Regions from separate parts of the Homo sapiens genome. Here region 2 is linked to region 1. Evidence: fine-mapped expression QTL. A gene starts in region 1. The other region holds a variant in brackets. All regions are shown on one strand. Distances are between the middles of the regions. Region 1 holds the start of IRF6 (interferon regulatory factor 6). Region 2 overlaps TRAF3IP3 (TRAF3 interacting protein 3).

The links. PIP is the estimated chance that this variant, and not a neighbour inherited with it, causes the effect. A credible set is the group of variants that fine-mapping cannot tell apart.
Region 2: its variant is the best candidate, but not a certain one, in a credible set for the expression of IRF6 in lung (TOPMed, PIP 0.73).

Annotation. Positions count from the first base shown.
Region 1 is chr1:209,804,041-209,808,434 of GRCh38, reverse strand. It overlaps IRF6 (interferon regulatory factor 6), which reads left to right and starts at 2,293. Exons shown (of 9, transcript NM_006147.4): 1 at 2,293-2,488. RefSeq lists a silencer at 2,028-2,371.
Region 2 is chr1:209,775,242-209,779,635 of GRCh38, reverse strand. It overlaps TRAF3IP3 (TRAF3 interacting protein 3), which reads right to left. Exons shown (of 17, transcript NM_025228.4): 10 at 4,147-4,287; 11 at 3,900-4,037; 12 at 2,149-2,284; 13 at 1,463-1,525; 14 at 262-321. C1orf74 (chromosome 1 open reading frame 74) reads left to right here. Exons shown (of 2, transcript NM_152485.4): 2 at 1-428. Among named protein-coding and RNA genes, the nearest start is that of C1orf74, 7.1 kb to the left of the region's middle. RefSeq lists a silencer at 1,566-1,766. The variant A/G (reference allele first, on the strand shown) is at 2,300.

The DNA of each region.
Region 1 (4,394 bases):
AATGGCCTTACCCCTCATCCCTCTCATACACCTGCAGTGGAGCTTGTTTGGTCCCCAGAGCCCAGCCCTGGGCCAGATGGAAGATGCTGTTTGTCTAGTGAGCTCATCAGCAGTAAACAGCTAGCTGTGCTGATGAGCTTGCCCTTCCCCCAGTGAAGGGAAGAGTGGCCACAGGGCAGTGGTTGAGACAGAGGCTGGCTGAGTCAGGCCTTGGGGCCTTGCTGCCTTCCCAGGCCTTTGCTGGCTACATTCCAAAGCTAAATTGGGACTTGGAATCATGCCTACATTATTATCAATCTGGGGCTCTTCAACACACTTGTATGAGTATGCTAGGGCTACCATAACAATGTACCTCAGAGTGGGTGGCTTGAACAACAGAAATTTTTTGTTTCATAGTTCTGGAGTTTAAAAGTCTAAAATCAAGGGTCTGAGGGATGTGAAAAAAAAAAAAAAAAAAAGAGCTCTATTCCAGGTATCTCTCCTTGGGTTGCAGCTAGCTGTCTTCTCTTTATGTCTCTTCATATCACCTTCCCTCTGTGGGTATCTGCCTCTGTGTCCAAATCTCCTCCTTTTATAAGGACACCATTCATATTGGATTCAGGCTCACCCTAATAACCACGTTTTAACTTGATTACCTCCATAAGGATCCTGTCTCCCAATAAGGTCATATTCTGACATCTGGCTGTGGTTGCAGTGGGGGTGGTCAGGACTTCAAAATACAAATACAAATTTTTTTGTATGTGGGTGACAGTTCAACTCATTGTACCACTCCTCCACAGTTTCTCACTCATTACTTTAAACACCAAAACCTAAGTGACCTGCGCATGCCCCATTTCACCTACGACAGCTCAGTGGTTGAGGGTGGGGGATTTTTAAAAGTCTCATTTACTGTTGCACAGCCTCCTGCAAACCGGTCCTCTAGATAGATGAGGAAGGTGAGGGCAATCTCATCAAGCACCTGTTAGGGTACATGCAGGACTTGAATTTCAGGTAATAACAAGGAATGCCTTCTTGTTCTCTGACGCACTGTCTATATGGTATTTTTAATCTTTATGCCAATAATAATTGCAAGTACATATAAAGCACTTGATAAGTGCTAAATATTGTTGCAAGCAGTTTACATGTAGTTATTGAATTCCCACAATACCCCTGAGGTAGGTACTATTACTAACCTCTTTCTACAGATAAGACACCAGGGCCTAAAAAGCTTAAGAAACTTTCCCAAGTCTGTAGTAACTGATGGAGTTGGGGTCTAAACCCCAATAGTTGGCTCCAGAGGCTATGCTTTTACTCATTACACGATAGTGATCAGAGGAAGCAGGAACTCCAGTCTGGGCAACATAGTCAGACCCTGTCTCTAAAAAAAAAAAAAAAAAATTAGCCGGGCATGGTGACCCATGCCTATATTTCCAGTTACTTGGGAGGGTGAGGTGGGATAATTGCTTGAGCCCAGGAGGTTGAGCTATGATTGTGCCACTGCATTCTAGCCTGGATGACAGAGCCAGACCCTGCCTAAAAAAAAAAAAAAAAAAAAAAAAAGGAATTGAACTGGGTGCCAGTGCCTGTAATCCCAGCACTTTGCGAGGCTGAGGCGGATCCCTTGAGCCCAGGTGTTGCAGACCAGACTGTGTAACTTAATAGCAAGACCCCATCTCCAAAAAAAAAAAAAAAAAAAAAGGAAGAAAAAAGAAAGAGAAAAAAGCAAACAACAACAAAAAAGAAGGAAGGAATTATTATTCTCATTGAAGAGATGAGGAAACTGAAACCAAGAAGCCAAGAAGCTAAGTAACTTACCCAGGGTCACACGGGTAAGAGGCAGAGTAAAGGTAGAATTCTAGTCCTGAAAGCCTATGGCTTCTCCCAGACAGGACCAAGTGTCCTGGTTCTCTTCTTCATGTGCAACTCCACTTACACAGGCCCACGAGTAGTAGGGCCAACCCAGAATCTCAAAACCCTTATTTGTGCTTAACTGTCTGCATACTGCAGGGTAATTATGGGCCGTGAAGGAGGGAGGCACCCTCTCGACTTAGATCTGAACTCCCAGTCGCTTCCAGTTCCCAGGACCACCAGCCCTGAGCCGTAAGGCTAGGCCTGAATCTGGGACTTTCTTAGCCGGAGTTAGAAGCGGAGGAGTAGGGTGGGACGCTGGACGGACGCCGCTGGGCCGGGCAGCCCAGAAACGCGGAGTGTCATATTTCTTGCAACTCGCCAATCCCGAACGCCGGGGGGCGTGGCCACACCTGGGAGGCGTGGCCGGGCGGATGCGAAGGCTGCGGCGTCCTGGGGCGAGGCGCTGACGTGAGCTCGGCGCACCTGGGCTGGGCAGGTAAGGGCTGGTGCGGGACGGGGAGAGGAACCTGCAGTCCCTACTTGGGTAGAGCCAGGCGCCCCTTGGCTAAGACGTCGAGGAGCGTGGTAGCGACGGGTGATCTTCGCTGCGGACTTGGTTCGGAGGGACGTCCGCTTCTGGTGGACAGATTGAGCAAAGGTGGGTACGCCAACTTCTGGGGACCAGCTTGAGGGAGGAGAGGCTCCCCCGTGGGTGGGGTAGGACCCATCCCCGGAGTTTGTAGGGGGTGAGAGAACTTGCTTGGGGGCATCTGTGTGTTTGGGGTGGGTACCCACTGGGGCTGGGTGCCTGTCGCCCTTTTCCAGATAGCTTTGGGGCGGCCTCAGTTCTGTAGCGCTAGGCCCCTCTCGAATCTACACTTGTGTCTACTCTCCCTACCCCCACCGCCGAAGCGGAGGGCACTGCTCTCGGCCGTCAACAACCCCACTATCCGGTAGAGCTAAAGCACCGCGCCCCCTTCAGTCTTACCAACTTGCGGCTGGCCCCTGTGTCCCAGAGAGGGGACTTCCCAGGTCCGCAGGTCCTTGATCCTAGTGGGCGTTTTGGGAAACTGGAGTGAGGGTGGCCAGGAGCTTTGGAGCATTGGCGGTTTGTCTTCCCTCCCTGAGTCTGTTTGGCACAGTTAGGCCCTTCGCCCTGGGCCTGGGAGACAACCTTGGATTTCCAAGGAGCGGAGCTAGGTGCTGGGGAGGGTGGCGCTGGGGTGTGGTTGCTCTGGGGGTGGGCCCTCTTTGCCCGAAGGGGCTGGAGGGTGGTGTGGAGAATGGGGAAAGTCTCCCAGGCCTGACTTGGAAAGGAGGCCTGAGGTGTCACTCTTTACAGGGAGCCTGCTTTGTGGTAAAGGGGTCATCCTGTTCCAACCTGTTCTCTTGGTGGATGTCAAGAGTGGAAGTCAGGGAAAAGAGATGGATAGAGAGAGGAAGGCGCTTGGGTGGGATTGGTGAAAGCTGGTGTTGACCCAGGAGTGTGGTTTAGGATGAGACGTGTGTATGATGTATGACAGTGGCACTCAATACCTTGTAACTCCCATTCGCCATCCCCCAGCTTCCATCCAGCAGAAGGGAAGGGTGTGGGCATTTTGACTAGAGGCCTGCAGTTTACCCCTAAGCAGGGCTAAACAGGGAAGCCTGAGGAACGGAACTTAGACGATGGCATTTCATTTCTTTCAGGAGAAAGGGAAGAGCTGGGACTGCTAAGAATTGTCTGCGAGAAATGGCGTGTGTTTTAACCTGAGCAAAACCACTGACGGCCAAATCTCGGCTTTTGTGTGGCAGTGCCCCTGGAAACTAGTCTGGGGAGGAGCTATGGAGGTGGCAATGAGGGTGTTTATGGAGGACCTGCTCCCTAGAATAGGGGTATGGGAGAGGACAGTTATGCTCGGAGGAGGCTGAAAGTGTCCCTCCTCTATGCTCACTGTGAGGGGAATAGATAGGTTAGCATCATTGTCCTTTGGCTGTTTAAGTACCTGTTAGAGACACAGGCCTTACATTTTGCTGTGATGGCAGCTAGAGATACCAAGATGAGTTCAACTAGGCTAAGGTGGTTCTTCAGGCGTTGGGATTTGGGTGGCAAGAGTGTTTAGAAAGAGAACTCTGATTTAGGTGTGTTTGAGAGTGGATGTTATGCAGTCTCCACCTCAATCACTTTATTGGCCCTCTATGCTGCTGGGATCTTTGTTGATGTTTTTAGTTTACTTTCTTGGTGCGCAGAAGATGAGAGGGACATGGAAGACAAGGTGCAGTGGCAGGGTTTGGTACAGAACACTGTGACTTAGGAAATAAAGCACCTCAGCCCAGATGTAAAATGGGGATAGTAATATCACATTCAGGTTTATGAGGATGAAATCAGACATGTTAGGTAAAGGTTCATGTAAAAATTGTAAAGCCTACACAGATACAAAGGATTGTTGTTACCATCCTTCATAAGAAATGTCTTATTGTCCTGAGGTTAAGAAAAAATTACTTGTAGTTTTTTAAATTATAAATTGAAACATATCATTGTAGGAAAATATGAATCATATATAATGTATATGGGAGAATGTAAA
Region 2 (4,394 bases), 29 kb after region 1:
TTGAAATGTTCAACACAGACATGTGCTTTCAGAGAGAATAGAAACCCTTTTTCACAGTTTATATACCTCAAGATAGAAGGCTAACTAGTTGAAGTGTCCTCAGAGCCAATGATCAGTCCTTAAAAAGCTCCCACACATCCCGGACTTAACAGACTCCCAGAACTGGCTGGGACTCCAGGAGGTCATGTAGTCCATCCCGCTGCCTCTAGGCAGGTAAGAGAAGAGCAATATCTTAGAATTTGTGGTAATAAATTTGCTGACCTTTCTTTGTTAAGAGTTTCTCCTGTTCTTGAAGCTGTAAGGATTGATTTTGAAGCAAACCTGTTGGAAAACACAAGGAACTTGTCTATGCTAGCATATTTACTACAAAAAGTTTTCTTTTCAGAACTTTGCTTAGAACCTTGGTTATTAAATATGTTCCCATCTGCTGTGTGTTGAATTTTGTCCCCCAGAATATATATGTTGAAGTCCTAACCCTCAGTACCTTAAATAATGACCTTATTTGGAGATAGATTCTTTAAAAGATAATCAAGTTAAAATGGGGTCATTCAGGTGGGCCCCAATCTAATATCACTGGTGTCCTTATAAGAAGGGGAAATATGGACACAGATATGTTCATGGGAAAGACAATGTGAAGAGACACAGAGAGAAGACGGCCATCTACAAAGCCAAGGAAAGAGCCCTGGGATAGATCTTTCCCTAAACGCCCTCAGAAGGAAACAACCCTGCTGACATCTTGGATTTCTAGTCTCCAGAACTGTGAGACAATACATTTCTGTTCTTCAAGGCACCCAGTCTGTGGTACTTTGCTATGAATATAGCATCCTTATATCTCCCCCTACCATGTCTCTATCTTCAAGTCTTTGCTTGAAGATTTTCCCTTTTCCCTGTGGTTGCTTTGCTCTCTTAATAATCATTGCTGCTTTCATGAAGCTTCTCTATCAGGTGTCAGAGGTTAAAGTGGTGGGCAACCAGCAGCTGTATTAATTGAGTCAGGTTCTCCAGCTTTTCAGAAACTGCTTTTCTTCTGAGAAGTCCCTTTTCCTCTTTGGGCCCAATATGTAGTTTTGAAGTGGATTGAGGCACGTATAGTGTAAGCTTATTTTCTAAACCATCTCTAATGACAGGTCTATGTGACACATTCATGTACATAAATTAGAATATATAAAATAAGAACTGCTTTAGGAAACCCAGTATTTAAAAAAAATCTGCAGTTCTAGGGGAAATGTAAGTGGTGTCATTGGCATGGAAGGAGAACAGTAGAAAAAAAAGAACAGAGGCTAACACATAATTTATGGAGAGCTATGTAAATGACCTCACTTTACAAGAAGAGGGTCTGAAAGTGCACAGAGTTAGAGCATATGCCAAAGACTGGGCCCTTAGTCCCTACTCTGGGTGCCTTTTGTGGGCCAGGACCCCAGGAAAACCCTGTGGACTTTCAGAATCTGGAAAGCGAACTTACCCTGCAACTGCTGTACTCTGGTCACCAGGGTGAGTTTCTCTGCCTCTGACCTTTTTAGTTGATCTGAAAATGCAATAATGCAAGCCAAAATAAAGGAACCCAAGACTTAATGAACTCAGTACTTAGGATGGAAATTAGTAATAGATGCTGTCTTGTCATGGTCTTTAACGTGTGTCTATTGGAAGTTGCTCTATCTTCGTGTCCCAGTTCTGAAGAGGTAAACCAGAAGCCAAGTACCTCAGGTTTTTGTGCATCAACAATGTTGGGTTGCATTGAGGCTTGTGTTTACACACTATCTAGTCCTCTCTATCAGCGGACACAGAGGATGTGACTGAGAGACTTTCTCTATGCCTTGTGTTTCAACTGACCTTTCCCTTTCAAATTAGGACTGTGGCCTTGACATATGTGACTGATGTGGGAGCAGCTGTGATCTGGCCCAGAGGGATGGGCTAAAAAAGAGAGCTCAGACAACAAGATACTCTATCTACTACAGTGAAATTAATTTTCAATTTTGGATGATTAAAACAGTCCTGCCTCTCCCTCAAGGTAAAATGAGATTATAAAGCCAATCAACCAATCAAGCAAACAAATAAAAGGCTGAAGCCTTTCTCTTAATTCAGTTTCTTTTTTCTTAGCTCACTTGGCCATGGCTGCCATGCACTCAAGGCCTCCAAGGAGAAGAGTACCTTGTAGGTCCTGGGTATCCAAGCTGCACAGGTCTCTGTCCCCTTGCAGGCATTCAATCTTGGCCTGCAGTTGCTGGTGCTCATTTTCCAAAAATCGCAGGGCCTGGTTCATCTGTAAGTCCCTGCTATCTGCTCCCTGTAAGGAGGAGGA[A/G]GGGCCAATATAGAAGGAGGTCAGTGTTGGGGTGGAGGTTGGGGGGCGGGTACCATGGAAGAGGAAAATGTAGAAAAGTCTGGAATTTTAGAGATAGAAGGAATGTTAGGGAGATGAGAAAATAGAGAAGTCTTTCTTTTTTCCTATTTCTTCCCTTTGCTTTGTTCCTCATATTTATAACAGCAGATTAGACTTTTGATATTCACAAGGAACTCGCGTCTTTTATTTATTTATTTTTATTTTTAGAGATGGGGTCTCACTTTGTCACCCAGACTGGAGTGCAGTGGTGCCATCATAGCACATTGCAGCCTCGACCTCTTGGGCTCAAGCAATCCTCCCATCTTAGCCTTCTGAGTAGCTGGGACTACAGGCATTTGCCAGTAGTTTTGAAGTGGACTGAGGCATGTGCAGTGTAAGTTTATTTTCTAAACCATCCCTAGTGACAGGTCTAAGTGACACATTCATGTACATAAATTAGAATATATAAAATAAGAATTGCTTTAGGAAACCCAGTACGTTAAAAAATCTGCCATTCTAGGGGAAATGTAAGTGGTTGTCATTGGTGTGGGAGTCATGTCTTGACACTTTGGTAAATCACCAAATTAAGGAATACAAAGTCATTAGTTTTCTGGATGTTTTCATTTTCTCTTTTTTCTACTTCTGGCAGTATCAGTTTTTTTTTTGGTTAGGGTCTTTTTTTTTCCACAAAGATTTAAAGTTAAAAAACCCCTCACAAAAATCTTCATAGGAGTTGCCTTATAGGTGATGGGAAGAAGAAAACAACAAAGGTTGAGCTGTGGATACCACGCAGAGTGACCAGCTGGGTTCACTCCTTTGATAAGACTCACATACTCTGTCTCTTATCAAGTGGGCTGTTCTGAGCCCTGCTTCAGGAAAATTACAAAGATCAGCTTTTGAGGTGGATCCTCAAAATTCCAAACCAGGTAAATAAATCTATGCAAAATAATAGCTAATATTTACTGAGTGTTTTTGTGTGCCAGGCATTGTGCTAAGTGCTTTACATGGATCATCTTACTTAATACTCAGAACCACCTTATGATGTAGGTACTATTATCCTCATTTTAGAGATGGGGAAACTGAGGCTTAGGACAGATTGAAGATGATGGAACCCTTGAGGATGCCAAGAATCTAATTGTAATTGCTAAATGTAATTGCTTAAAATACACATTGGCAGAAAGTGTTAATACTCACCTGTAAATAAATTAGTGACATTCTTTCTTTGCCAACAGTGGGCAATTCTGAACTGGATGCTTTTTTGGGATGGAGTTTGGAGAGTGGGTTGGGAGATGACATTAGTAGGCTGATGAATATTCCAGCCAGTTCTTTTCATTTGGGTGGTGATGGTGTCATTCCAATGAACGCTTAGTTCATTTGCATGAGCAATGCAGACATCCTTGCTAAACTCAAAATTAGATTTCAGAGCCAAAACAGTGAATTTGGTACAAAGTAGTGGTGACTGAGGAACTGAAAGCCAGATGCTGTCAGCTGCCTTTGGAGTCCCTAATCCAGAACAGCTTCTTTCATCACCATCCCTCCTCCCCATACCCTGTCTTCCCTCCCCACCCCCAGTGCCTGGTACCTGCAGTTTGGACTGAAGCACGTGGAGTTGGCTCTCCAGCTCCCTGTGCTGGGTCCCAAGGGTCCTCCAGTCCTCCTTCAGAGCCTCATACTGGCTCCTCCACTCTTCACACTTCTGCTCTGCCAGGGCCAGGGATCGCTGAGGGAGATCAGAGAGGAGAGGGCTCCAGGGAGTTGTGCAGCTGGCTCCCCTTGTTCCCCAAGCTGCCTGGAGTCCCCAGCCCCATGTCTATGTGGCATCCCCATACCTGTGTGCTCTGTAGTTGCTGCTCTGCATTCATTTTCTCCTCCAGCACTTTCTGCAGTGACTCCTTGGCCTTCTGCTCATAGCTGTTTTTCTGGTCTTCCATCTCCAGTAGTACTTTTTTCATTCCCCAAGGGGAGTATTTCTGTAAATTTGATGCAATTCAACAAATACACATTGAGCTTCTGTGTGCCAAATCCTGAGCTGGGATACAGAAATGAAAAGAAGTTGGTTCTTCCCCCAGGCAGAGAT